Homo sapiens: one gene and its partners. The protein of the gene in region 1 interacts with the protein of each later gene in a pairwise test. Each region holds a gene or a part of one and is shown in the gene's direction. Other genes may lie near its edges.

What was found. The genes of interacting proteins can lie anywhere in the genome.
Region 2: the proteins of LITAF (region 1) and KCNIP1 interact in binary tests that used the Homo sapiens proteins (3 or more experiments, as listed by UniProt).
Region 3: the proteins of LITAF (region 1) and STAM2 interact in a two-hybrid assay, tested with the Homo sapiens proteins (4 studies listed by BioGRID and IntAct).
Region 4: the proteins of LITAF (region 1) and RASSF1 interact in binary tests that used the Homo sapiens proteins (3 or more experiments, as listed by UniProt).

The regions. Positions count from the first base shown.
Region 1 is NC_000016.10:11,552,420-11,555,919, reverse strand, and holds part of LITAF (lipopolysaccharide-induced tumor necrosis factor-alpha factor), read left to right. Parts: intron 1-2,230; coding exon 2,231-2,387; intron 2,388-3,500.
Region 2 is NC_000005.10:170,510,520-170,514,019, forward strand, and holds part of KCNIP1 (A-type potassium channel modulatory protein KCNIP1), read left to right. Parts: intron 1-3,500. UniProt on the Homo sapiens protein: Regulatory subunit of Kv4/D (Shal)-type voltage-gated rapidly inactivating A-type potassium channels. Regulates channel density, inactivation kinetics and rate of recovery from inactivation in a calcium-dependent and isoform-specific manner.
Region 3 is NC_000002.12:152,127,264-152,130,763, reverse strand, and holds part of STAM2 (signal transducing adapter molecule 2), read left to right. Parts: intron 1-3,500.
Region 4 is NC_000003.12:50,338,037-50,342,005, reverse strand, and holds the start of RASSF1 (ras association domain-containing protein 1), read left to right. Parts: upstream 1-1,169; 5' UTR 1,170-1,200; coding exon 1,201-1,450; intron 1,451-2,799; exon of another isoform or gene 2,800-2,912; intron 2,913-3,705; exon of another isoform or gene 3,706-3,969. Other genes in the region: ZMYND10 (zinc finger MYND domain-containing protein 10), read left to right, coding at 75-196, 307-432, 521-596. UniProt on the Homo sapiens protein: Potential tumor suppressor. Required for death receptor-dependent apoptosis. Mediates activation of STK3/MST2 and STK4/MST1 during Fas-induced apoptosis by preventing their dephosphorylation.

The DNA.
Region 1 (3,500 bases):
TTCACATAACCTCCTTGTGCCTCAGCTTCCCCATTTGTAAAATAGGTTTCATCAAGTACCTATTTATAAATATCAGTGAGTTGTTAACATGAGAGGAAGTTGTGTGTGCCAAATACAGAGTACTCGTTTGATAAAAGTGAACTCTTATTGTTGTGTTCAAGTTATTTTGAGCTGGAAGAGGATGAGATAATGACTTTAGATTCTTAGACCATCCTGTGATCAATAAATAGTTTCTTTTTCTTTTTCTTTTTTTTTTTTTTTGAGACAGGGTCTCACCATGTTGCCCAGGTTGGAGTGCAGTGGTGCAGTCATGGCTCGCTATAGCCTGGACCTCCTGGGCTCAAGTGATCCTCCCACTTCAGTCTCTGGAATAGCTGAGACTACAGGCATACAGCACCACACCTGGCTAATTTTTAAATTTTTGTGTAAATCGGGTCTCACTGTTTTTCCAGGCTGATCTTTAACTCCTGAGCTCAAACGATCTTCCCACCTCCCTTGGCCTCCCAAAGTGTTAGAATTATCAGCATGAGTCACAGAGCCTGGTCCAAATAACTTATTCTTGAACCCCAAAAACACTTAATAAAATGTATGAACAGGGTGTGGTGGCTTGCGCCTGTAATCCTAGCTACTGAGGAGGCTGAGGCAGGAGGATCACCTGAGGCCAGGAGTTCCAAACCAGCCTGAGTGACATAGTGAGACATTGTCTCTATGAAAATAAAATTAGCTGAGTGTGATGGCTTGTACCTGTAGTCCCAGCTACTTGGGAGGCTGAGGTGGGAGGATTGCTTAAGCCCAGGAGGTTGAGGCTGCAGTGAGCTATGATTGTACCCCTGCACTCCAGCCTGGGCAACACAACAAGACCTTGTCCCCCCTGCCAAAAAAAAATTACACGTAAGTGCTAAAGTATGATTTAATACTACTTTTCTGGAAGGAGGGTCTTTCTATGAGTATTACTAAGTTCAGTTAACTCTAGGCAGTAATTTCCCCCTAATTCATTTGTTATATAAATGACATTCTAACGTAAAAAGGAACAGAAGGAAGTTGCTTTAACAAAAATATGAGCTTAACAACTGAAGTGCTTGATGATTTTCATCACCCTGGGTTCTCTCTTTTTTTTTTTTTTTTTTTTTTTGAGGTAGAGTCTTGTTCTGTTGCCCAGGCTGGAGTGCAGTGGCATAATCTCGGCTCACTGCAACCTCTGCCTCCCAAGTTCAAGCAATTCTCCTGCCTCAGCCTCCCAAGTAGCTGGGACTACAGGCACGTGCCATCATGCCCGGCTAATTTTTGTCTTTAGAAACAGGGTTTCACCATGTTGGCCAGGCTGGTCTTGAACTCCTGACCTCTGGTGATCCACGCACCTCGGCCTCCCAAAGCCAAGGGATTTGCTGGGATTACAGGTGTGAGCCACCGTGCCCGGCCTGGATTCTCTTCTGATTCTTGAGAATGTTCGAACATGTTTTCACATAGCTTTTTCTTCCTAGCATTATTTTATATTTTCATTTCTTGTATCAACACAGTTCACTAGCTTGTTGTCTTACAGAGTTGGCCTGCGTTTCCTGGCTTGGTAAACTCTACCCTTATCATTGGCTGTCAGAGTTTATCAAAGGGTTTGTGTAAAGAGAGTGGATTATTTATCAAGAGCTGCTAGGCACAGTGTGAGGCTGGTTAAAATTTATTTATTTGTTTTTGGGACTGAGCGTCGCTCTGTTGTCCAGGCTGGAGAGCAGTGGCGCAATCATGATTCACTGCATCCTCAATCTCTCAGACTCAACTGATCCTCCCACCTCAGCCTCCTGAGTAGCTGGGACTACAGGCGTGTACTCCCACGCTGGGCTAATTTTTATATTTTTTTGTAGAGATGAGGTCTTGTCATGTTGCCTAGGCTGATCTCAAACTCCTAGGCTCAAGCAGTCCTCCCACCTCGGCCTCCCAAAGTGTTGGGATTACAGGCATGAGCTACCGCGCCCGGTCCTCCTTTCTTTTTGAGGCTGAATCATATTCTGGTGGATGGATAAACTTCGCTGTGTTAGTTTATTGGTCCGTCGATGGACACTGGTGTTCCTTCCCCTTTTGGCTCTCATAGATAGCCAGACGATGAACGCATGCTATGAACACAAATGTACAAATATAATATTTGCTGGCATCCCTGCGTTCCTCTCTTTGTCCTGTAGTGAATGCTATTGGCCTTGTTTCCTGAGCAACCTGTGTTTGTCCCTCTCCCTTTCATCAGTTACCGTGCAGACGGTCTACGTGCAGCACCCCATCACCTTTTTGGACCGCCCTATCCAAATGTGTTGTCCTTCCTGCAACAAGATGATCGTGAGTCAGCTGTCCTATAACGCCGGTGCTCTGACCTGGCTGTCCTGCGGGAGCCTGTGCCTGCTGGGGTGAGTCTGCCTCCCACTTGGCCCCAAGCCATCCTGCCCTTCTCTCTGGGTGCTGGCGGGGGTGGGTTCTCAACTGCACCATGCTTGACATTCAGGGCCAGACATTTGTGTTGTTTTTTTTTGAGATGGAATCTGGTTCTGTCGCCCAGGCTGGAGTACAGTGGGGCGATCTCGGCTCACTGTAACCCCCACTGCTCAGGTTCAAACGATTCTCCTGCCTTAGCGTCCCGTGTAGCTGGGATTATAGGGGTGCACAACCACGCCCAGCTTATTTTTAGTAGAGCTGGCATTTCACCATCTTGGCCAGGCTGGTCTCAAACTCCTGACCTCAGGTGATCTGCCCACCTTGGCCTCCCAAACTGCTGGGGTTACAGGTGTGAGCCACTGTGCCTGGCCTAAGGCATTTCTTTCTTTTTTTGTGATGGATTCTCACTCTGTTGCCCAGGCTGGAGTGCAGTAGCACGATCCCGGCTCACTGCAACCTCCGCCTCCCAGGTTCAAGCTATTCTCCTGCCTCAGCCTCCTGAGTAGCTGGGATTACAGGTGTGCACCGTCAGGCCCGGCTAATATTTTGTACTTTTAGTAGAGATAGGGTCTCACCATGTTGGCCAGGCTGGTCTCGAACTCCTGACCTCAGGTGGTCCACCCGCCTCAGCCTCCCAAAGTGCTGGGATTACAGGTGTGGGCCATCATGCCTGGCCCAAGACATTTCTTTATTGTAGGGGGTGTCCTGTGCATTGTAGGATATTGAATAGCATCCCTGGCCCCCACCCGCTTAATGCTAGGAGCACCACGCTCCCCAGTGTTCTGAACAAAAATGCCCCCTGGGAGGCCAAGTCATCCCTGCTGCTCTTAAGCGTATCCGTCCCCAGAAATTGGTCTTCCGTCTTTTCTTCTTGCTTATCTGCTGAAACCACGCCCTGCATGTAGGGACAAGCTTCACAGCTGCTTCCAGCTGTGTACAGGGCAATATCCTCAGGGATTCCTTTTTCTTCTAGAATTTCATGACCTAAATAATAATGTTTTGCTCGAGCCCGAGGGAAGCTTTAAAGAATCTGTACATTAAAATTCTTCATAGGAATTGCTTCAAAACTTCTTATCCTTTTATGACCC
Region 2 (3,500 bases), on another chromosome or scaffold:
GGCAGGGAAGGAACAGTTTTTAGAAAAGAGAGAGAGAGCCTAAGAGTCCTAGGGCCTTCAGAGAAACATCTCTTTAAATGCTTCCCCTTCCTCCGGGTAGTATTTTAAATAGGTCACCTTCTGGAAGTAGTGGTAGTCAGTTGGGATATTGCTAGCTTCCCGTACCCCAGCCATGGGAGTAGTACTTTGGATTAAATCTTGTTATTCAAGGCCAGACTAAAAGCCTCATTGGTGCGGTGGGGGGAAGTAGGAACCACATTCCACTCAAATCAGGAAGCTAGAAGTAGGATTGCATTATGGCTATGAGCACCGCGTTAAAATAAGAGTCTTGGGATTGAACTCCCTTTCATTGGTTCATAGCTGAGCCTTTCCAGGCCTCAGTTTCCTCTTCTATAAAATGGGGACAGTGGGCCAGGTATGGTGGCTCACATCTGTAATCCCAGCAGTTTGGAAGGTCAAGGTGGACAGATCACGAGGTCAGGAGTTCAAGACCAGCCTGGCCAATATGGTGAAACCCCATCTCTACTAAAAATACAAAAATTAGCCGGGCATGGTGGCATGCTCCTGTAATCCCAGTCACTCAGGAGGCTGAGGCAGGAGAATCGCTTGAACCGAGGAGACGGAGGTTGCAGTGAGCCAAGACTGCACCATTGCACTCCAGCCTGGATGACAGAGCGAGACTCCGTCTCAAAAAAAATAAAAATTAAAAAATGGGGACAATGACAGTGTCTCCCTATAGGGCCACGTGAGGGCCAAGAAGGAATTGAACATGGTGCTGCACACCAGGTGAGTTGGCAGTGCTGGCTTTGCTGCTGCCTTTTGTCCCATCTCAGGACAGGCCCCTTCCTTCTGCCTTGCTCCACTTGGATGATGACGGTGTTACCCTTGGTAATCTCCCCATCCCTTTGAGCTGTGGCCTCTGATTCCAGCCCTCTGAGATCCCGAGCCACCATATCCATGGTCACTGGCATTCTAAGCAGTTTCTCTGGTGATTCCTAAGGGAAGCTGTCAACTTTAGATGGTAAAAGCAATTCCCAACAGTGAGGTATGAAAATGCAGGTCACCCGCCAGGAAGGATAATAATACTAGCTCAAATGACTCTGGCCTCCACCCAGTGCCAGGCACCTTGCTCGGCTCTTTCCTGTGTTATTTTATTAACCCCAACCCTGGAGGACAAGATGCTATTACAGTTCTCATTTTGCAGTTGAGGAACCTGAGGCTCTAAAAAGGGAAGTGCCTTACTAAGGGTCATAGAGCTTGGGAATCGCAGAGCCTGGTTCTGGTTGATCCCAGACCCTGAGCTTCTAACTGCCATACTAACCTCCTCTCCTCCTGGCTTTGCCTCTGGAACCTTAGGGACCTGAGTAGAAAAACAGTCAAAACGGGTGCATGGATGTTGGGGAGAAGGCATTCAAGGATAGACTGAAGCACCTCATTAGCCACACGGAACAACTGAGCTACGTGCAGGCCCTGAGCAAAATGCTTTTAGCCCCATCCCAACCCCGCCTCCCCCTAGATCTGTTTCCATTTCATCTGACACTGTGGAAGCCTGAATATGAAATGATTGGGGGCAGAAGGCCAATTAGCAAATTCATTAATAGGATTAAACATCTCTCCTCTGCTCTAATCATTTATGTGAACTAAAATTTTCTCTCTTTGTTATAGCCATCATTGCCTGTCAGTGAAGATAGAGTGTTTAAATATCTTCCAAGTATGTTAGAATTGCAAACGTTCAGAACCAGGGACCAGGATCAGAGTTTTCACACGGTCCAGGTGGGCAAGGAGATCAGTCGGTTTACAAGTGGTTATCACTGCTAAGAAAAAAACACAAGAACTTGCTAGTACATTTGCAAGTACCTTACTGCTCATCTCCTTTCTCTCCTTAGCCACATGTTGGCCCAAATCACCTGCGTATGTTATACGGTTGTTATGAGCATACACTCCTGGTTAGGCAGACCTAGAATTCAAATCCTGGCTCTGCAACTCATTAGCTGTGTGACATTGAGCAGGTTACCTCGCTTCTGTGAACTTTCATCTCTACATAATCTAGAAAATGAAAGTATTGTTGATAATTCCCTCCCAGGTTGTTATGAGGATTAAATGCAGTCATGCATGTAAGATGCAGCGGTCAGCACTCAGAATGCGCTAAAGGTAAATTGTTACTATCTGGGTCTACTCCACTTAAAGTGTGCTCCTCCAACCAACAGCCTCAGCATCAGTTGGGAGCTTGTTAGAAATACAGAGTCCCGGCCAGGCGCGGTGGCTCACGCCTGTAATCCCAGCACTTTGGGAGGCCGAGGCTGGCGGATCATGAGGTCAGGAGATAGAGACCATCCCGGCTAACACGGTGAAACCCCGTCTCTACTAAAAATACAAAAAAATTAGCCAGGCGTGGTGGCGGGCGCGTGTAGTCCCAGCTACTCGGGAGGTTGAGGCAGGAGAATGGCGTGAACCCAGGAGGTGGAGCTTGCAGTGAGCCGAGATCGCGCCACTGCACTCCAGCCTGGGCGACAGAGCGAGACTCCATCTTGGAAAAAAAAAAAAAACCTCAACTCAGTGAGACCTACCCAGTCAGAACCTGCATTTTAACAAGATCACCAGATGGTTTATATGCCCACTGGAGTCTGAGGAATACTGGCCTAAAGTACAGATTATGGAACTATGTGTATTGTATTACACAAAATTATATATCAAGCCAGAAGAGGCTTTTGCTAAGACTTCTGATTTAAGCCTCATTTTACAAATAAGAAAATAGAATCCAGAGAAGGTGAGTGGTTTGCCCACAATCACACAGCTCAAGTGTTAGGCCTGACATCCGAACCCCAGCCCTGGTCATCTCATATAAATTGTTAAGAAGTCAGATTTCCAGATTTGCATTTCTGCAATCAAGCTTGTCTGTTTTTCTTTCTCTCTCTTTCTTTTTAACAACAAAGAAGTGCAGGATGATGTACGCCCATTAAGTTTTAGTTTACTCATTTTAAATGTTATTCCAGCCAACAGAGATCCTGAATCTTGACTCCACCAGCCATCATCTTAGCTGTACCTCCAAGTTTTCTGCTACCTGAAGAAATGATAAGGAGGCATTCTAGGTCTTTATCTAAGTTGCTTCTAAGAACATGGGCCAGAACAGGGTGCAGGACAGAGCCATGTGGACTGCAACTAGAGACTTGCCTGCATAATGGATTTCACTGATAATGTTCAGAATCCCAGAGCAGGATGGCAGCCTGGTTTACATACAGAGCCTTTGTGTGGGATTTGAAGCCAGAAAATGTGACTAAAGTAGGAGTCTAAACAGACACAGGTAGGGCCTGGGGAATGAAAGTCAAATGCCTTTTCCAGGGGGTCTAGTAGGACCTCTCTGTTGGTGGGGATCCCCCAAAAAAGTAATCTTTTTATTTTTGTAGGAGTCCTGTAATGGTTTCATTATTATTCTCACTTTGCAGAGTAGGAAACGTAGATGCAGGGAGGTTCTTGATTGGCTAGTGATTAGTAAGCAAGGA
Region 3 (3,500 bases), on another chromosome or scaffold:
GCCTCCCAAAGTGTTGGGATTACAGGTGTGAGCCACTGCACCCAGCCTTATGCCCAGCTTTTTTTTTTTTTAAAGACAGGGTCTTGCTGTGCTGCCCAGGCTGGTCTCAAACTCTTGGCCTCAAGTGATCTTCCTGCCTCAGCTTCCCAAAGTGCTGGGATTATAGGCATGAGCCACTGTGCCTGTCCCTTATTGTCCTTTAAAAATAGGAGCGGCCAGGCGCAGTGGCTCAAGCCTGTAATCCCAGCACTTTGGGAGGCCGAGGCGGGTGGATCATGAGGTCAGGAGATCGAGACCATCCTGGCTAACATGGTGAAACCCCGTCTCTACTAAAAATACAAAAAATTAGCCGGGCGTGGTGGTGGTGGCCTGTAGTCCCAGCTACTCGGGAGGCTGAGGCAGGAGAATGGCGTTAACCCAGGAGGCGGAGCTTGCAGTGAGCCGAGATCTCGCCACTGCACTCCAGCCTGGGCAAAAGAGCAAGACACGGTCTCAAAAAATAAATAAATAAATAAAAATAAAATAGGAGCAACACTGAAGGGGGTAGACTTTCAGGGTTTTGAGCTTTTAACTTGGTTCTGCTCCCTTATTTCTCAGCTCTCTATCTGAAGTCATAGGGAGAACCTGTAGTGAAAGGAAAACAAGGGATAGGGCTTAGTATTCCATCATCATCCCTTTCTAGTGGTATTTATTGAATTAATATATAAGCAGCACAAGAAGAAAAGATTAGATAGGACCAAAATAAGAAGGAGAATATAAACTACTTCTTTTCTGCCTCTGCCAGAGAAGTGCAGTAGCAGCAGGACTTTTCCTAGTCACCAGAGATTGTCGTCTTTGTTCCAGGGGACATTTTAAAAATAAATTTGTTGTGTTTTCTAAAGAAATGAAAAATCTGTGTGGCAATTAACAGTAGTTTTGCCATATTTTAGAGAAAGCATTAAATATCTCGTTACACATCTACTTTGTTTCAATGCAGCATGTTAATGTTCAGTGAATAATCAAACTGGAAAAGATTAAAAAGTATTATGATAGATGTGGCTGTATGTTTAGTTCAGACACAATTTTTTTTAATTTTTTGTATTTTCAATTTGAAGTTGGTTGAGTGCACGGATGCAGAACCCATGGACATGGAGGGCTGAGTGTATGTCCACACATTCTACAATGGAAATCATTGTCCTTGATAATTATCCCTTGATATGAGCAGATATTATATAATGAAAAAAGGCAGAAACTATGACAATTTAATCTTATTTTTGGTTCATAAAAAGAATTTTGTTAAAGGAAAAGATCTAGAAGAATTAGAAGTCAGATTGAGGCCAGTGTGGGGGCTCACACCTATAATCCCAGCATTTCAGGAGGCTGAAGTGGGAGAATCATCTGAGCCCAGGAATTTGAGACCAACTTGGGTAATACAGTGAGACCCCATCTCTACAAAAAAATTTTTTAATGATTAGCTGGGCTTGGTGGTGTGCGCCTGTAGTCCCAGCTCCTCAAGAAGCTGAGGTGGGAAGATCACTTGAGCCTGGGAGGTCAAGGAGGCTGCAGTGAGCCACGGTTGCACCACTGTACTCCAGTCTGGGTGACACAGTGAGATCTGCTCTCAAAAGAAAAAAAAATCAAAGTGACCATTCTGATATTAGTTAATTTTTTGAGTGAGAACTCAACCATTAACCATTTTTCTTACCAGTTTCAGTTTTTGAATAGGCCAACTGGCATTTTTTCTTGTTCTATGGCCACAGCTGCAGATGCAGCTCCTGTTCTGGGAAATGTTTCCTGTTCTTCAACAAATTCTTATTGACTATTATTTACCCTTGTCAAGTATTCAAAGATGAATAAAATATCCTTTTTTCCCTTGAATGGATCATGTTTGTTATTCCTACTAAGAAAAACATCTCTACTGTTAGAAAGTTAAATTGTACATTTCATTTTTGTCATTGTACAGAATGAAATTTTGTAGCATTTTATCAGCCTAAGAAATTATATTGAGTAAACATGTAAATTGACTCCATAAAAGTTTAGGTAGATTTGTTGAAGAGAGATTCATAGTCTGGACTTAACTATGTTCCAGACTATTCTAATCTTATTTCCTCCTGTCCTCCAAAGGTAATTTTCTACCACCTGATCAAGTTGCTCTTTTGCCTTATTACTCTGGGATTGTGTCTCAAATCTTTAAGGGGATTTCAAACACAGTGATCATGTCTTTCTACTGCATTTTCCTGGTGTTTCATCAGCATGCTGGGTTTTGTGGATCAAATTCCTACGGTTACATTTTAGTTATGCATTTGTTAGCATGGCACTAATTTCTGTAGCTTTCTGGGTGACTTGTAACTGATTTTTTTTTTTTTTAATTTGAGACAGAGTCTCGCTCTGTTGCCCAGGCTGGAGTGCAGTGGTGCAATCTCGGCTCACTGTAACCTCCGCCTCCTGGGTTCACACCATTCTCTTCCCTCAGCCTCAGCCTCCCGTGTAGCTGGGACTACAGGTGCCCGCCACCACACCTGGCTAATGTTTTGTATTTTTAGTAGAGACGGGGTTTCACCGTGTTAGCCAGGATGGTCTCGATCTCCTGACCTCGTGATCTGCCTGCCTCGGCCTCCCAAAGTGCTGGGATTACAGGCATAAGCCACCGCGCCCGGCCTGATATTTTTGATAATAGAGTTTGACCTGCTTAATGCAGTCATTCTTACCAGAGAGAGAAGACTTTTCGTTGTTGTAGTTCAGACATAACAGACTCTAGTAGAGGAAAAGTGACAAATCTTGATAGGACTCAGTCCAGGCTATTTACTTGGTAGTCCTGTGTCTGTCTGTGTGCCTCTGCTTGTTGCCTCTCTGTGTTTATGTAGAAAGAACCACATTCAGTAAAAAGGCTTGTGGATGTTTCAGGCCAGATGAAAAGTGGTTGCTTAGCTTTTGTAAATTTGACAGTGCAAAGAGAGTTCTTTATTACTCCCAGGGGAACTATCAAGTAGAAAGAGTTTGCTCTGAAGCTTCTTGGGCAAATTTGAAGATGCTTTTATTTGGGTTTGTTGTTATTACATAATAAAGCATTGGTTTACTTTCTCAAAATCAACCAACCAACAAATGAGCTGTAGAGATTAGTCTTACTTACACATTGTTTTTACTTGGATTTTCAAGGATAATTATTTAAGTAGGTTTTTTTTTTTTCAGTTGACACTTTCATGGATATAAACAAATGAAAATGTGTGTGTGTGGTTTTTTTTTAACAAGTGTTTTTAAATTTCCATCATATTGTACTTCATAGAGGTTCTGAGCCTTGCCTGGGTACTTTCTTTTATTGAGATTTTTAATTAAGGCCCAGATTCTTACCCAAATTGAGAATTTTCTTTTTAATAATTGAATTCTCAACAAAAAACCTAGAATGTGTGAAAGTAAATTCTCTCAGCACCGAAATTATGAATTGATTGCATTTTATGAGGTGTGGAAGGACTTTTCCCTAATATTATAAAGTCATATTGTCACCAGTAGAGGATTGTGACTGC
Region 4 (3,969 bases), on another chromosome or scaffold:
GGAAAGTTAGCTGCTCAGGACCACTGTCCCACTTTACCAGCACCTTCCTGCCACTCTCCACTTCTCTCTCCTAGATCCCAGAAATCTGGGAGCGGCTGGAGCGAGAAAACAGAGGCAAGTGGCAGGCAATTGCCAAGCACCAGCTCCAGCATGTGTTCAGCCCCTCAGAGCAGGACCTGCGGCTGCAGGCGCGAAGGTAAGGCCTGTGGAAATGGCAGGGAGGGTGGAGGGGATGCAGGAGGCATGGATGTGGGTGGGGTGCCCCCACCTTCCAGGGCCAGTCAGACCTTCCTGACTTTCCCCCAGGTGGGCTGAGACCTACAGGCTGGATGTGCTAGAGGCAGTGGCTCCAGAGCGGCCCCGCTGTGCTTACTGCAGTGCAGAGGCTTCTAAGCGCTGCTCACGATGCCAGAATGAGTGGTATTGCTGCAGGTGAGGGTATCCTAGAACCTTGGACCTCTAAGCCCTACTCCCACATCCCCCACATGCATTGCCATCCTCAATACCCACCTGCCTGCAGGGAGTGCCAAGTCAAGCACTGGGAAAAGCATGGAAAGACTTGTGTCCTGGCAGCCCAGGGTGACAGAGCCAAATGAGGGCTGCAGTTGCTGAGGGCCGACCACCCATGCCAAGGGAATCCACCCAGAATGCACCCCTGAACCTCAAGATCACGGTCCAGCCTCTGCCGGAGCCCCAGTCTCCGCAGTGGAGAGCAGAGCGGGCGGTAAAGCTGCTGACCGATCTCCCTCCTCCTCACCCCAAGTGAAGGCTCGAGACTTCCTGCCCCACCCAGTGGGTAGGCCAAGTGTGTTGCTTCAGCAAACCGGACCAGGAGGGCCAGGGCCGGATGTGGGGACCCTCTTCCTCTAGCACAGTAAAGCTGGCCTCCAGAAACACGGGTATCTCCGCGTGGTGCTTTGCGGTCGCCGTCGTTGTGGCCGTCCGGGGTGGGGTGTGAGGAGGGGACGAAGGAGGGAAGGAAGGGCAAGGCGGGGGGGGCTCTGCGAGAGCGCGCCCAGCCCCGCCTTCGGGCCCCACAGTCCCTGCACCCAGGTTTCCATTGCGCGGCTCTCCTCAGCTCCTTCCCGCCGCCCAGTCTGGATCCTGGGGGAGGCGCTGAAGTCGGGGCCCGCCCTGTGGCCCCGCCCGGCCCGCGCTTGCTAGCGCCCAAAGCCAGCGAAGCACGGGCCCAACCGGGCCATGTCGGGGGAGCCTGAGCTCATTGAGCTGCGGGAGCTGGCACCCGCTGGGCGCGCTGGGAAGGGCCGCACCCGGCTGGAGCGTGCCAACGCGCTGCGCATCGCGCGGGGCACCGCGTGCAACCCCACACGGCAGCTGGTCCCTGGCCGTGGCCACCGCTTCCAGCCCGCGGGGCCCGCCACGCACACGTGGTGCGACCTCTGTGGCGACTTCATCTGGGGCGTCGTGCGCAAAGGCCTGCAGTGCGCGCGTGAGTAGTGGCCCCGCGCGCCTACGAGAGCGGAAGGGGCAGCCAAGGGGCAGCGCAGTCGCCGCGGGTCAAGTCGCGGCAGAGGGGGTCGGCGGGGACAGCTCCCGAGGACTAGGTCCGTTACTTTCGCCCCATCGCTGAAGAGTGCGCGAAAATGGTTTATCCCTTGTCGCACTCCACTCGTATCTGGGCCACAGATGAGCAGAGGTGGCTGCTTATATGTAAAAATACGCTGATTTTAAGTTTCTTATCTTTAAAATGCCTTGGCCCTTCTTGAGAAAGGGTTTGTGCCTACTGTCCTCGGAGTCCATCTTCCCAGGCTTGCCTCTTCTCAAACACTCATGACCCCCTCCAGAACCTTTAGGGTGAAGGGAAATTACCACCTATGGGAGGGAGCCTGGAAAAATTTAGAACCTTTGGTGGGCCCCCTGCAAGCAGGAGTTTTGTTGAGTCTTTATTTAGCAAACACCCTTTTCTGACCCAGTGAATCAGATGCTAAAATATGCACGCAGCCACACACCCAGCAGTCCTTCTGCACCCCTGGGAATCGCCAGCAAGCAAAGGTTGCTCTCCCCTGGGTAGACACCAGCTGGAATCACCAGGGGTGCTTTTACAGTCCTCCCCGCTAGCCTGGATCCCACCGCAGACCTGTTGAATCAACTGCTGGGAGTGGACCCTAGGCATCAGTAAATTTTAAAAACTCCCCAAATTATTGTAACATGGAGTCTGGGTTGAGCATCACTGCTCTGGCCTATTTAGGAACTTGTGGATGGATAGTGTCCCAGGTCTGTGTGTGCATGGAGACCCTCTCATCCGGTACAAGAGGACATCACAAATTCAGCTGGGGGGAGCACAAAGTTGTGACAGAATGCAAAGAATGAACAAGGGGCCGAGCGCGGTGGCTCATGCCTGTAATCCCAGCACTTCGGAAGGCGGAGGCGGGTGGATCACCTGAGGTCAGGAGTTCAAGACCAGCCTGGCCAACATGGTGAAACCTCATGTCTACTAAAAAATAAAAAAAAATGAGCCAGGCGTAGTGGCGGGTGCCTGTAATCCCAGCTACTCGGGAGGCTGAGGTGGGAGAATTGCTTGAACACAGGAGGCGGAGGTTGCAGTGAGCCGAGATCGTGCCACTGCCCTCCAGCCTTGGCGACAGAGTGAGACTCTGTCTCAAAAAAAAAAAAAAAAAAAAAAAGAACAAGGCTGGGACATTGCAGCGTTCTCAAAGAGAAATAAAGTAGCCATGGAGATAAGAAGCAGGATGATTTGGGCATGTTTATCAGAGGTAGAGACAAGGGAGAAATCAAAGATAAGTTTGGGCTTTTGTCTCCAGTAACTGGGAGCCTAGTGGCCATTTTTGCTGCAAAGAGGAAGCTGGGCAAGTGTAGCAGTGAGGCTGAAGAAAAGGGAATTAAATTTTGGCCATGTTCACTTGAAACGTCTTTTAGACATCCTAGTGAAGGTACTGGCACGGAGGATCTAGTCTGAGGGTTTAGGTCAGTGTTTCAGCCGTGGATCTGGGGCAGATGAATGTAGACAGACCAGGCCAGTGATCAGGACTGAGCCCAGACTTCATCGTGAGATATGGAAGTTGAGTCAGAATCTGCAAAGGAGCTGAGCAGGAGCTGCAGGGGGTAGGAGGAAAACTGGGAGAGTGTAGCCCCTGGGAGTCAAAGGGAGCAAGCTTCAAATGATGCTGAGGGGGTGAGAATGGAGAATGGAACACTGGATTCCATTTGGTAGTACACAGATCGCTGAGGACCCTGTCCCGGGCAGTTTCCTGGAGGAAGAGGCAAGCCTGGCTGGAGTGGGTAGAGGGGAGAGTGAAGGCGAAGGATTAGAGTGTATAGAGACCAGTGTCTTGGTCTGAGGGGAGTAGAGACAGGTGACAACCACAGGGCAGACGTAGGTTAAAGGTGTTTAGTTTTTCCTTCAAGTAAATGGGCAGATGTATTCCATATACGTTCCCAGTGAAGGGCCGGGTGCGGTGGCTCAAGCCTGTAGTCCCAGCACTTTGGAAGGCCGAGGCGGGTGGATCACCTGAGATCAGGAGTTTGAGACCAGCCTGGCTAACATGGTGAAACCCCGTCTCTACTAAAAATACAAAAATTAGCTGGGCATGGTGGCGGGCGCCTGTAATCCTAGGTACTCAGGAGGCTGAGGCAGAAGAATCGCTTGAACCCAGGAGGCGGAGGTTGCGGTGAGCCGAAATCGCGCCATTGCACTCCAGCCTGGGTGACAAAAGCAAGACGCAGTTTTTTGTTGTTGTTTTTTTAATTGCCAATGAGGAAAGGGGAAGTTCTGTGCTAGGCGATAGAGATCCAACTGTTGAGCAGGCCTCTCTGCCTGTGGCCTTCCGGCCGGTTTCCAGACGCCCAGGTGGCCAACATTAGAGTCCGCGTAGCAGTGTGAGGTAACCCACTGAGATAGGTCGGGCCTGCGGAGCCTGGCGAGCAGCGGCCCTCTCCCTGGGGCTTCCCTTCAATCTCCGGGACATTTCCCCGACCTGGAGCTCCTCC